Homo sapiens: one gene and its partners. The protein of the gene in region 3 purifies or fractionates together with the protein of the main gene of each other region. This does not show direct contact. Each region holds a gene or a part of one and is shown on either strand. Other genes may lie near its edges.

Region 1 (3,648 bases), on a different chromosome or scaffold from region 3:
AATAATATGATGAAAGCAAAGAGCTTACAAGTACTGTCTGATAAACAGAATGGGATGTGGAGACAAGTGATGATATTAGGGTCTAGAAAGTTAGGTTAAAAGCTGTTATTCATCTAAAATAATGCTACTACAAAAGATATTTGTATTTATTTATTATTACTGTAATTTTTTGAGATGGAGTCTCACTCTGTTGCCCAGGCTGGAGTGTGATGGCATGATCTCAGCTCACTGCAACCTCCACCTTCCAGGTTCAAGCGATTCTCCTGCCTCAGCCTCCCGAGTAGCTGGAACTACAGGCATGCACCACCACGCCCGGCGAATTTTTGTATTTTTAGTAGAGACAAGGTTTCGCCATGTTGGCCTGGCTGGTCTCGAACTCCTGATCTCAGGTGATCCACCTGCCTTGGTCTCCCCAAGATATTTCAAAGGAAAAAAATCCACAATATTTGGTGTTTAACCAAATATTGGAACAAAATGAAAAGAATCAATTAACCTGTAAATAATCATCTTTAGGCAATTAAGAGACCAGCACCTGAATTAAGTGCTGTACAGAATATAAAAGAAAGGTAAAATAGTCTCCCTGTCCTAAGGGAGTCTAGCAGGAGAGACAAAGCTACCTTCTATCGACTCACTGGCTCTCAGGATTAGAGGGATTCTAGAAATCATCTTGTAAAAACACCATCTTATGCCAGAACAGTCCTTTCAATTAGCAATTAGTCAGGCAGCCTCTGCTCAAACACCTTCAGTGATGGAGAACCCGAGACTTCTGGAGGCAGTCCATTCCATTCAGACAGCTCAAAGTATTAAAAAGTTCTTCCTTATATGGAGGCAAATCTGCCTCCCTGCAACTTCCACCCACGAATCTTGGTTCTGCCCTAGGAGGTCATATGAAACAAGTGTGCATTAAACTGAGAACAAGTACTAACTGTATGGTACTGACTGTGAGCACAGCAGCATTCAGAGAAGGGAGGCAAAGATGACTCCTGATTTGCAAATATGGGGGCCTTAAGAGAATAATGACATTATAGGCAGAAATGGGTTGTGGCATGTTCTAGTTAGGGCAACAAGATGAGGTCAGTTTTGGATATGCTGAGTTTGAAAAGAAGACAAAGCTTCTAAGTGGAAATGACTAGTGAGTATTTAGAAATAAAGCCTAGGAAAGAATCAAGACTGGAGATAATGTTTGCAAATCATTGGCAAAGAACTGTCATGAAGTCATGAGAACAGACAAGCTTTTGGAGGGATATCATGCAGAGTAAAAAGAAACTATGAGCTTGATTCTCCAGCAATGTCTATTGTGGTTTGAAACCAAAAAACCAGGCCTGGCGCAGTGGCTCAGGCCTGTAATCTCAGCACTTAGGGAGGCTGAGGCGGGTAGATAACCTGAGGTCAAGAGTTCGAGACCAGCCTGGCTAAAATGGCGAAACCTCGTCTCTACTAAAAATACAAAAATTAACCAGGCATGGTGGTGCATGCCTGTAATCCTAGAAATCATCTTGTAAAAACACCACCTTCTGCCAGAACTGAGGCACAAGAATCTCTTGAATCCAGGAGGCGGAGGTTTGCAGTGAGCCGAGATCGCGCCACTGCACTCCAGCCTGGGCGACAGAGAGACACTCTGTCTCAAAAAAAAAAAAAAAAAAAAAAAAAATTAGAAATGGCTAGTGATTCCTGCCAAAGCTGCTTCACACTCTTATACTTCTAACAACTTAACCCAATTCCTTCTGCCTATTCAAGGAAGTCATTCAGAAGTAAATGGAACCAGGTTATGCGTGCAGTTCTTGTTGCATCCCACCAGGCAATTAAGACAGTAGCATGAATTTCTACTTGAGTAGGAAGTTGCTATGCTTGAAATGTTTTCTACTTTGTCCCACAGTTGTTTTTCTAAGTCATCATCCTTAGGTAAAATTGAAAATAAAGCACCCATACAAATCAGCCTGTCTACTATGGTAGCCCAATTGATTTGCTTCAAAATGCTTCTCTTAATTTTGTAATCCTGTTCCTGAGGTTTTATCCTAAGAAAGTAAATCATAATGTGAGAAAAGTGATAAGCATGGAGATGTTTGCTGCAATGTTAGATCTATTGATCTATCTATATCTATCTTGGACTTCTAATTATAGGGGAATAGCTAAATGAAGTGTGGAAAAAAACTTGAACGCAAAATTTACAATATTTGTCACATTTGGGTGATGGGTTTTTGACAATTTCTACCTGTTTTCCAAACTTTCTTTTAACATATAATATTTTATAATAATAATAAAAATCTCTACTTGACTATCCCTTCTAAATTACCACTAAACTATGTAGTAGTTAGTTCTACTTCTAATGAATTCTTATCACGAGGTTTTAACATGTCACAAAGTAAAACCTACACATGCTACCAGAAGATACAAGTTGGCTTGTTTAACACAGAAACCAAATAACAGGCACCACTTTGCCCCAGTAAAGATGCCATTTAGGCCAGGTGCAATGGCTCATGCCTGTAAGGCCAGGTGCAATGGCTCATGCCTGTAATCCCAGCGCTTTGGGAGGCTGAGAAGGGCAGATCACCTGAGGTCAGGAGTTCGAGACCAGCCTGGCCAACATGGCAAAACCCCGTCTCTACTAAAAATACAAAAATAAAAAAATTAGCCAGGCGTGATGGTGGGTGGGTGCAATGGCTCATGCCTGTAATCCCAGCTACTCAGGAGGCTGAGGCAGGAGAACTGCTTGAACCCGGGAGGCGGAGGTTACGGTGAGCCAAGACAGAGCAAGACACCATCTCAAAAAAAAAAAAAAGATGCCATCTAAATCTAACCCAAATCAGGAGCCACTGTTCTTCTCTAAGCATTTGGTTTCACTGATTAAACCAATGACATTTAGTGCCTGAGTCACTGCCACCCGAGGTTTAGATTTTAAAAGAAAGGCCTATCTTCTACGGAGGGAAGGAATCCAACCCAACATCAACACCTGTCTCCTGTTCCCTCCTTACACATGTCCTCTACCTGAAACTCCAGGAGTGAGTAAAGTTAGTGTATAAAGTGAAATTAGACTTGGGAACTAGCTGTTTCAATGTCTGGAGCAAACAGGTAACTTTGTGTGGTCATGGGTTCTCTTCTCTCCTACGTTCAAAGAATATTATGAAGACTAATTGCACAGAGCACTCGGCAGTCCCTTTCTACTTCTACATGTTTTATAGCGTGTAAGGGAAAACTGCATTGGCTGATTTCAGCCTGAATAGTTGCTTTAATAAAACAGCATTTCCCACTCTAATATATAAAGATGGATTCAAGGATGACGTTTGTCCTTAGCCATGATTCATCTACAAGTAGGAATATGGAAAGACTGTAAGTCTATAATTAACTAAAGTATAGGAATTTCAATGCCCTCTGGAGGAAAAAACAAAACAAAACAAAGCAAGTCTGCTCCTTCCATTAAACATTTCAACTATTTTCCAGCCAAATGGAAAAGTTTGGCACAAAAGGTCTGGTAATACAAGGCAAACAAAGCAGCACTGTAGCTGAGGCATATTTTTAGAACTTTGTTTTTATCAGGTTAACATATAGTACATCAAGAAATAATTTCATGGTGAATGCTGTAGCTGCATTAATTTAAAATTATGAAACTACAGTCATGCATTACATAATGACATTTTGGTCAATGGATGG
Region 2 (3,748 bases), on a different chromosome or scaffold from region 3:
TAGCTCTGTGTTGCTGGCACCATCTGGCTGTAGCAGGGTTCAGTGTGGGAGGCCTTGCCTGTGAACTGTTCTAGAAGGCAAGCTGCAGGGCTGCATAACACTCCATTTTCCACTGTGAGTGCTGGGGGGACAGTGGTTAGCAGATGACATAGGCCCAGTCTTCAGGGTGAGCGCAGGAAGATGAATGAGAAAACCCTTCAATTCTGTGTAGCTGGGCTCTCTGGGGATGAGAAACTCAGGGGTTGGGGGGCACAGAGGAGGCCTCAATGCAGGCTAGTGAGGGTGGGGAGCAAGACAGTAAATGGAGCTGAAGCTGGGGCCAGATGCCAGGTAGGCCACACATTTCATCATCACATCTCTCAGCAACCCCAGCCCAAAAAGCTGGCCTCCTTTCCAATCTTCCCAGCCAAAGTCCCTGGACAAGCTGATTGGACCAACCAGAGTCAGATGCTCATCCCTGACTCATCACAGTGGCCTGGAAGATGCCACATGTTGACTAGTTGGTAGCAGCAGGCAGGTACTGGTACCAGTAAGGCAAGGCTGCTGGATATAGACACAGAAGGTCATTAGGACATGGGAAGTTCCTCACCAGGCTCTGGCCCTCTTTCAACCTCTGGGCCTTTGCACATGCAGTGCCCTCTTCTCAGAAAACCTTTCTGGCTGGGACTAGTAAGTGGCTCACGCCTGTAATTCCAACGCTTTGGGAGTCCGAGGCGGGCAGATCACCTGAGGTCGGGAGTTCGAGATCAGACTGACCAACATAGAGAAACCCCGTCTCTACTAAAAATACAAAATTAGCCAGGCATGGTGGTGCATGCCTGTAATCCTAACCACTCGGGAGGCTGAGGCAGGAGTGAACCCGGGAGGCGGAGGTTGCAGTGAGCCGAGATCGCGCCAGTGCACTTCAGCCTGGGCAACAAGAGGGAAACTCCATCTCAAAAAAAAAAAAAAAGAAAAAGAAAAAGAAAGAAAACTTTTCCCTCCACTCTGCTGGGCTGTTTCATTCTCCCCTCTAGGTTTCCAATCTTCGCCTTCTCCTGGCAGCCCCTCACATTGTCTCGGCGGGCTCTCACCACCATACACTCCATCTAGTGGGTGAAGGCGGGCCTAGGCCCGTGAGGGCAAAGCCTAGCGGCCATGATCACCCCGAGGTGCCCAGGACCCCACGGGAGGCGCTCAAGAAACGGCCCCTGGGGAAGAGCTGGCGCGCCCACCCACAAGCAGACCCCTTCCTGGGTGCAAACCCGTGTACGCTGGGACCCACTCCTATTCGGAGACCCACCTGGCTTGGGGCGCACAGATCGGGCGCGCGCGCACGATCCGCCCCACCCACAGACCACCGTGATCAGGGCGCACAGACACACACGCGCGTCCTCCCACGCACGCTCGGTCACACGCAGGCCCCCCTCTCCTGCCACAGAGGAACGCGCTGGCGTGCGCACGGCGGATCAATCATCATCCTTAGACCCACCCGGACCGAGGCGCAGGCTGCGCGCACGCGCGGCCCCGAGTCCCCGCCTCCCTGCCGCGCCTGTCGGGGGCGGGGCGCCGCTGGGGGCGGGTCCTGCGGCACCGCCCGGGAAGCTGCGCGAGGGTCGACAGCCTCCGCCACATCCTCCACCTCTCTTGGTCCAGCGAGCGTTGCCGGGCCAGGGTCAAGCGGAGGGCTCCGACGGCGCGGACGGAGCGAAGCGCCGAGCCATGGCGCACCAAACGGGCATCCACGGTGAGGGCGGATGGCGGGCGGGCAGGGGGCCTCGGTCTGGGCTCTCGGAAGCGCCCCCCCCCGGCTCTCGGCCCCTCCCTCCACCCCACACCAGCCGGGAGAAAGCTTCCTGTTCTCTTTTGCAGCCGCGGGTCGCCTGGGGTGGGCACATCTGGGGGAGTACGGACGTGGTGTGCATAGCTGGGAGTGGGTGTATGTGTACGTACACAACTGGGGTGGAAGTATCTGTGTGCCTACCTGGAGATGAATGTGGCTGTGTGTGCCCATCTGTATATTTTTGTTCCTTTCCGGGAGTGGGTGTACACGCATGTGCACACGTCTTCCGTGTACAGTCCTGCCTGTGCACCTCTGGATGTGACTCGCTTGTGTACATCTAGGGTCATTCATGCACTGGCACTAGTGACTGTTTGAATGGACACTGTAGGTCGCATAGGACCCTCTTTAGACATCAGTGTTTCATGGCAGTGTGCACATGTATGTGGGTGTCTGTGTGTGTGCACAGTTGGAGCGCGTCTCAGTGTGCATTTTTGCCAAGGATGCATATACCGCATGTGTCTGACTTGAATGGGCTTGTTTATGTGTGTTAGGAGAAGGCCCTGACCTTTGCTCCTCCCAGGACACTCACTCTCCCCAGGCTAGGGAAAACCCGGAACAGAGACTTCTACGTGGGATGGAGAAAGCTGCCTATCTGACCTTGACCTCTGACCTCCCTCCCATTTTCCACTGTGACTTTCTGAGTCTGCCTCAGTCTGGTTGGAAGATCCCAGCTCCAGGCTGCAGACAGAGAAGAGGTCCAGATATGGGGTTTTGTGGGGAGAGTCCTGGCCCTAAAGAATCCAGGCCAGCTCCCACCCCCAGCCCCCAGCCCTAGGAAGCTTCACCATTCCCGCATCACACCCTCCCCTCCCCTAGGGGTCCCAGTTTCCTTCTTGGACAGGCTGTGAGAGAAGCAATGGCTGGGAGCCAGGTGCCCTGACTCTACCTGGGGCTCAGTGTCCTCCTCTGTCACTGGCCTGAGAGAGCTGCCTGGCCTGTGGGGAAGGCCCGGGCTGTTTGCCCAGACAGCCTGGCGGGTTTGGCCATCAGCCACCCCTCCCACCACACTAGGATCCCCTGCCTGGGGCTGCCACCATCGACCTGCCTGACCACCTGAATCCTGGTGCGGTTGTGGCCACTTGGTGGCTGGGCTGCCCTGAGAAGGTTTCCCTGGCCCCGCGAAGGCAGGGGCCTGGGTCAGGGCCAGGGCTCCCAGATGGGCCAGCCTTTCTCCAGGAGGAGCTGGCGGGCAGGCTTCATGACTCAGCCCCACAGGAGGGAACTGCCTCCTGGCCAGCTTCTTCCTTCCCCTTTGTCTGGTCATAGCTGCTGCCTCCCAGCCTCCAGCCCTGGTGGAGGAGATCCCAGGAAGTTAGCCACCCCATACCCCTTCCCTGCTGCCTCACTCCCTCCTTTCCCATAGTGAGACAGGCCCACCGAGGGGGTCACTGGGGACTGGGCTGCCCCTAGCCCTCCTTCCACCTGTGAGCAGCCCACTTCTTCCCATTTCTGGCCTGGGAAGTTGGCAGCAGAGATCACCCTGGAGGACCAGGTGCCAGCCCTGTCCTGACCATAGGTGTGGATCTGCTGACCGCAGAGTAGGCAGGAAAGGGACCTGTAATGTGAGGCTCACTTGAGTCGGAGGGAGGGTGTTCATGAATCATTGATAATAGAGGCTCAGGTGTCCCAGGCCTGGCCTCTGGATTATTGATGGTGGCTGGGCAGGCATTGGGGCTGGGGTGGGCAGGGATGTGCCTTTCCCTGTGGGGGTGTCAGTTTGCCCTGGTAACACTAGAAGGGGCCCGTCGGCCTGTCCCTTAGGGGAGCTTCTTGGCCTTCCTTCTGGGAAGGTCTGGGCAGGTAGAAGGGGCAGCTCAGCACAGTCAGCTTGCTGTTATTATCATAATAAAAGATTAATTGTTATTAATAGAGGCCACCATCGCCAAGCCCTTTCTCCCATTTACCCCTCACCACAGCCCTGCCAAG
Region 3 (3,648 bases):
GGTCTCTGGAGGTAACTGGCCTGGGAACCACGAAGTTGGGAGAGCACTGTCTGCTCGGGGCAGTTGCCAGCCATCACAGGACAGCGCCTCGCATTCCCTCTAGTGGTGGAAGTCGGGATGGCGCCACCCCTCCTGGAGCCCTCCTGGAGCCCCGCATCCCTACACCAGGCTTTCCTAGCACCGGGGACCCCTGTCACCAGCAGCTCCACTCACCAGAAGCCTCTCCAAGCGCAGAGAGAACCTGCGCTTTGGAGTCAGACAGACCTGAGCTCCATTCACAGCTCTGAGGTGAGCCATGTGAAGTGGCTTCACCTCTCTGAGCCTGTGCCCTCACTTGTACAGAGGAGAGGTTAAAAAGATCAACTCCACAGGCTGAGTAGGAAAAATAACGGAGATGCCACATGTGAGGCATCAGCCCAGGGCCTGGCAGATGGTCAGAGGCTCAGGAACAGAACCACAAAGGTGGGGAGAACGTGCCTAACTGTGGGCACCACCACACCTGCCCCAAAACACAGTGCCAAGCCCTGGGGGGGGCGCTCGGCCCAGAAGACACAACTTGCAGGCCGGGCGCACTGGTTCACGCCTTAACTCCAGCACTTTGGGAGGCCCAGGCAGGTGGATCACCCGAGGTCAGGAGTTCAAGACGAGCCTGGCCAACACGGTGAAACTGCGTCTCTACTAAAAATACGAAAAAATTGGCTGGGTGTGGTGGTGTGCACCTGTAATCCCAGCTACTCGGGAGGCTGAGGCTGGAGAATCGCTTGAACTCACGAGGCAGAGGATGCAGTGAGCCAAGATCACACCACTGCACTCCAGCCTGGGCGGCAGAGTGAGACTCTGTATCAAAAAGAAGAAGAAGAAGAAGAAGAAGACACAGCTTGCGGGATCCCCCCGTCCACCGCTCTGAGGGCCAGACTCTGGGGCTGGAGTGGGAGGGGTGGGGACTGGTACAGCAGCCTCCCCAGGTCTAATCTGGGTCCTTCTACTCCCAGGGGCTCTTGGTCCCAGAGCCCCAGCACGGTGGGTAGCAGTGGACAATCTCCCTCCCCATGGTGGGAGGAGCACGAATGGGTGGCCCACCCCAGGGGACCAGCCCTCCATACTCACGTCATCAACCTTGGGCTCCGTCACAGGGACCCATTTGTAGATTCGTAGGGATGTGTCACCAACGGTCACCCATTTCTTCTCCCTGAGGAGGATGAGGAAGAGCCTGTTACCGGGGACTCTTCATCCCTGGGGGACACAGGCCACACTCCCTTGGGGCTGAGAGCAAGCTCCAGATCACACAGATGAGGGTTGGAATCCCAGCTCCACCCTCACTAGCGGGAGGCCCTGGGCAGGCCACATCACCCATCTAAGCCTGGTTTCTCCACCCGTTACACCACATAGGGTGGTTGCCCTCTCCAGGCTGTCGCCAAAAAGGCTGAGGGTGGGGCTGCCATTACAAGGACTCCTATGGGTGGCACGAGTCGGGCCCAGGTTCCTCCTGTGTCACTGCCAATGCCACGCAGCCAGTGGACTGGGCCACCCGCGCCTGTCTGGGCAGCAGAGAGGGCTTCAGGCCAGCAGGCCGATTCCTCTCATGGGGGGTGGAGTCGTCACCAAGGACACCCCGGGGCTCCTCCTGCCCTCTGGGCGATGCGTCTGAGGTCAGGGGAGGCATGAGCAGGCAAGCCGGGGAGCCGCCCACACTCTGCCGGAAGAATGCCCTTCGTGGCGGCCAAGGAGAGCCAGGGAGTGGTGACCTCGGCCCGAAAGGAGGTTACACAGCCTGAATGTGTGGGTGCAGCCAGGTGGGAGGGGAACTGCACCCCTGATTCAGGGCTCCTAGTGACCCTGTCTGCAAGGTCACCCCAGCTGCATTACAAACGCCTGAAGGACGGAGTCCAGACCCCCCACTGTGAGAGGCAGGTTTATGGATGAGGAGAAACTTACAAGCCACAGAAGCAAACAGGACTGGTTTTCATTCGAGATAACAATGCCCACCCTCTCCTCCACCACCACCACTCTGCTCCGAGCCACTGTCATTTTTCCGATTATTGCTACAGCCAGCCACCTCCTGTCCTTGACCCCCTGCACTCCGACTTGTCCCTTACCGCCACGAAGACCCAGCAGCCACACCCCTGAGGGGACTGAGGCTCAGGAGAGCCTCCCAGAAGCAGGGCTGGGGTTGGAACCGAGGCTCCTAAATCAAGACTCTGCCAGATCAGGAGACCTGCGAGGCCACCAAGGAGCCACTGATGGCTCAGCTAGGAGGCTGGCGGATTTAAGGGGCCCAGCAGGCACTGTTGGGGCAGGCGCACCCCTGGTACAGGCGACGTAGCTGCCCGAGTCCTCAGCAATTTTGGTGACAAAAATTCCCAGAACTGAGAATTCTGTGTGGCACGAGCACCTCTGTCCGTGAGCTGCCTGGCACCTTTTTTTGGCCTCTCTGCCCAAACTCAGCCTTAGATCACCCCCTCGTGGGGCATGTGGCCCTCACATGCTGGTGTGACAGGTTACAGGACTCCCACCCTGTCACCACGGGGGTTGCGGGATGACGGAGCATACTCAAACCCAGCCAGCCGAAACCACAGACACCTCACCCCCAAAAACCCTGCCCGCTCGGGTCCCACGTGTTCCATCAGAGGACGCTACGGCCCGGCTTTTCTTATTATACCAGTGGCCATTCCTAGCGCCTTCTATGTACCAAGGACTGTGCCGGCTCATCCGGCAGGAAATGGCAACTTCCCCATTTGACAGATAAAGAAACCGAGGCACAGGGCGGTGAAGGTGAACTCATTCTCCCAGAGCCAGCACTCGAACCCTTCACCCAGCACAGCTGTTGAGACCAGCCTCTCTGCTCCCTCCTCCTTGCACCTTTTCACCCAGAAACGATGCAGGAAAGACGAGTGTCTAAGTCCACTGGCCCGTCTCCTGCCTCCTGTGGGCAGAGCAGACAAACCACAATGCCCACCTTTCCCCTCCTCAATTCTGAGCAATCAGAAGGTGTCCAGAAGAGACCGAGTGCTCCTGGGAAGAACCTCAGTTGTTAGAGCAACCATCACAATAGCCACTGTGTGCCCAGGCTATTACATGCCAGGCTCCACGCCAAGCACTCTACTTACACACCCTCTCTCCCTGGGATTCCCAACAGGCTACAAGAGGGGGACGATTGTCACCCTTTTTACAGATGCAGAAACAGGATGCCCAGAGAGGTTATACCACTAGCTTGGGGTCTCACAGACAGGAAGTGGCAGAAGAGAATTAGATTTGGGCTCGGACCCCAGACACCACCTCCTGCTATTCTGTTGGCCATGAAAACCAAGAATCATTCTAAAGGAGCGCCAGGGTAACAGAAGCTGGAGGAAGAATGACAAATTGCCAGGACTCCATGCAGATTGGCCAAAGCCATTCATTACTCATGAGCCCTGGACCAGCTTCCCAGTAAATCAACCCATTCAAGGTTTGATTGTGTTTGGGAAAAAAAAAAAAAAGTAATTGACTTGTAACACACAGGACACCTTTCAGGGCAGAAAGTGTGCCAGAGATCTGGGCTTTGCGGCCGCAAATCAGCCAAGATGCAAGTTTGCAGCTGCTTCCCAGCGAGGCTCGAGGCCACCGCAGGCTACAAGCTGAATGCAGCCAGGCTTTCGTGCCTCTCTTTGC

What was found.
Region 1: the proteins of BCL7A (region 3) and CAP1 purify together in Homo sapiens (co-immunoprecipitation; 3 studies listed by BioGRID and IntAct, with this or other methods). This does not show direct contact.
Region 2: the proteins of BCL7A (region 3) and TWF2 purify together in Homo sapiens (co-immunoprecipitation; 3 studies listed by BioGRID and IntAct, with this or other methods). This does not show direct contact.

What each region holds. Positions count from the first base shown.
Region 1 is NC_000001.11:40,047,182-40,050,829, reverse strand, and holds part of CAP1 (adenylyl cyclase-associated protein 1), read right to left. Parts: intron 1-3,648. UniProt on the Homo sapiens protein: Directly regulates filament dynamics and has been implicated in a number of complex developmental and morphological processes, including mRNA localization and the establishment of cell polarity.
Region 2 is NC_000003.12:52,236,970-52,240,717, reverse strand, and holds the start of TWF2 (twinfilin-2), read left to right. Parts: upstream 1-1,559; 5' UTR 1,560-1,701; coding exon 1,702-1,726; intron 1,727-3,748. UniProt on the Homo sapiens protein: Actin-binding protein involved in motile and morphological processes. Inhibits actin polymerization, likely by sequestering G-actin. By capping the barbed ends of filaments, it also regulates motility.
Region 3 is NC_000012.12:122,028,241-122,031,888, reverse strand, and holds part of BCL7A (B-cell CLL/lymphoma 7 protein family member A), read right to left. Parts: intron 1,190-3,648; coding exon 1,108-1,189; intron 1-1,107.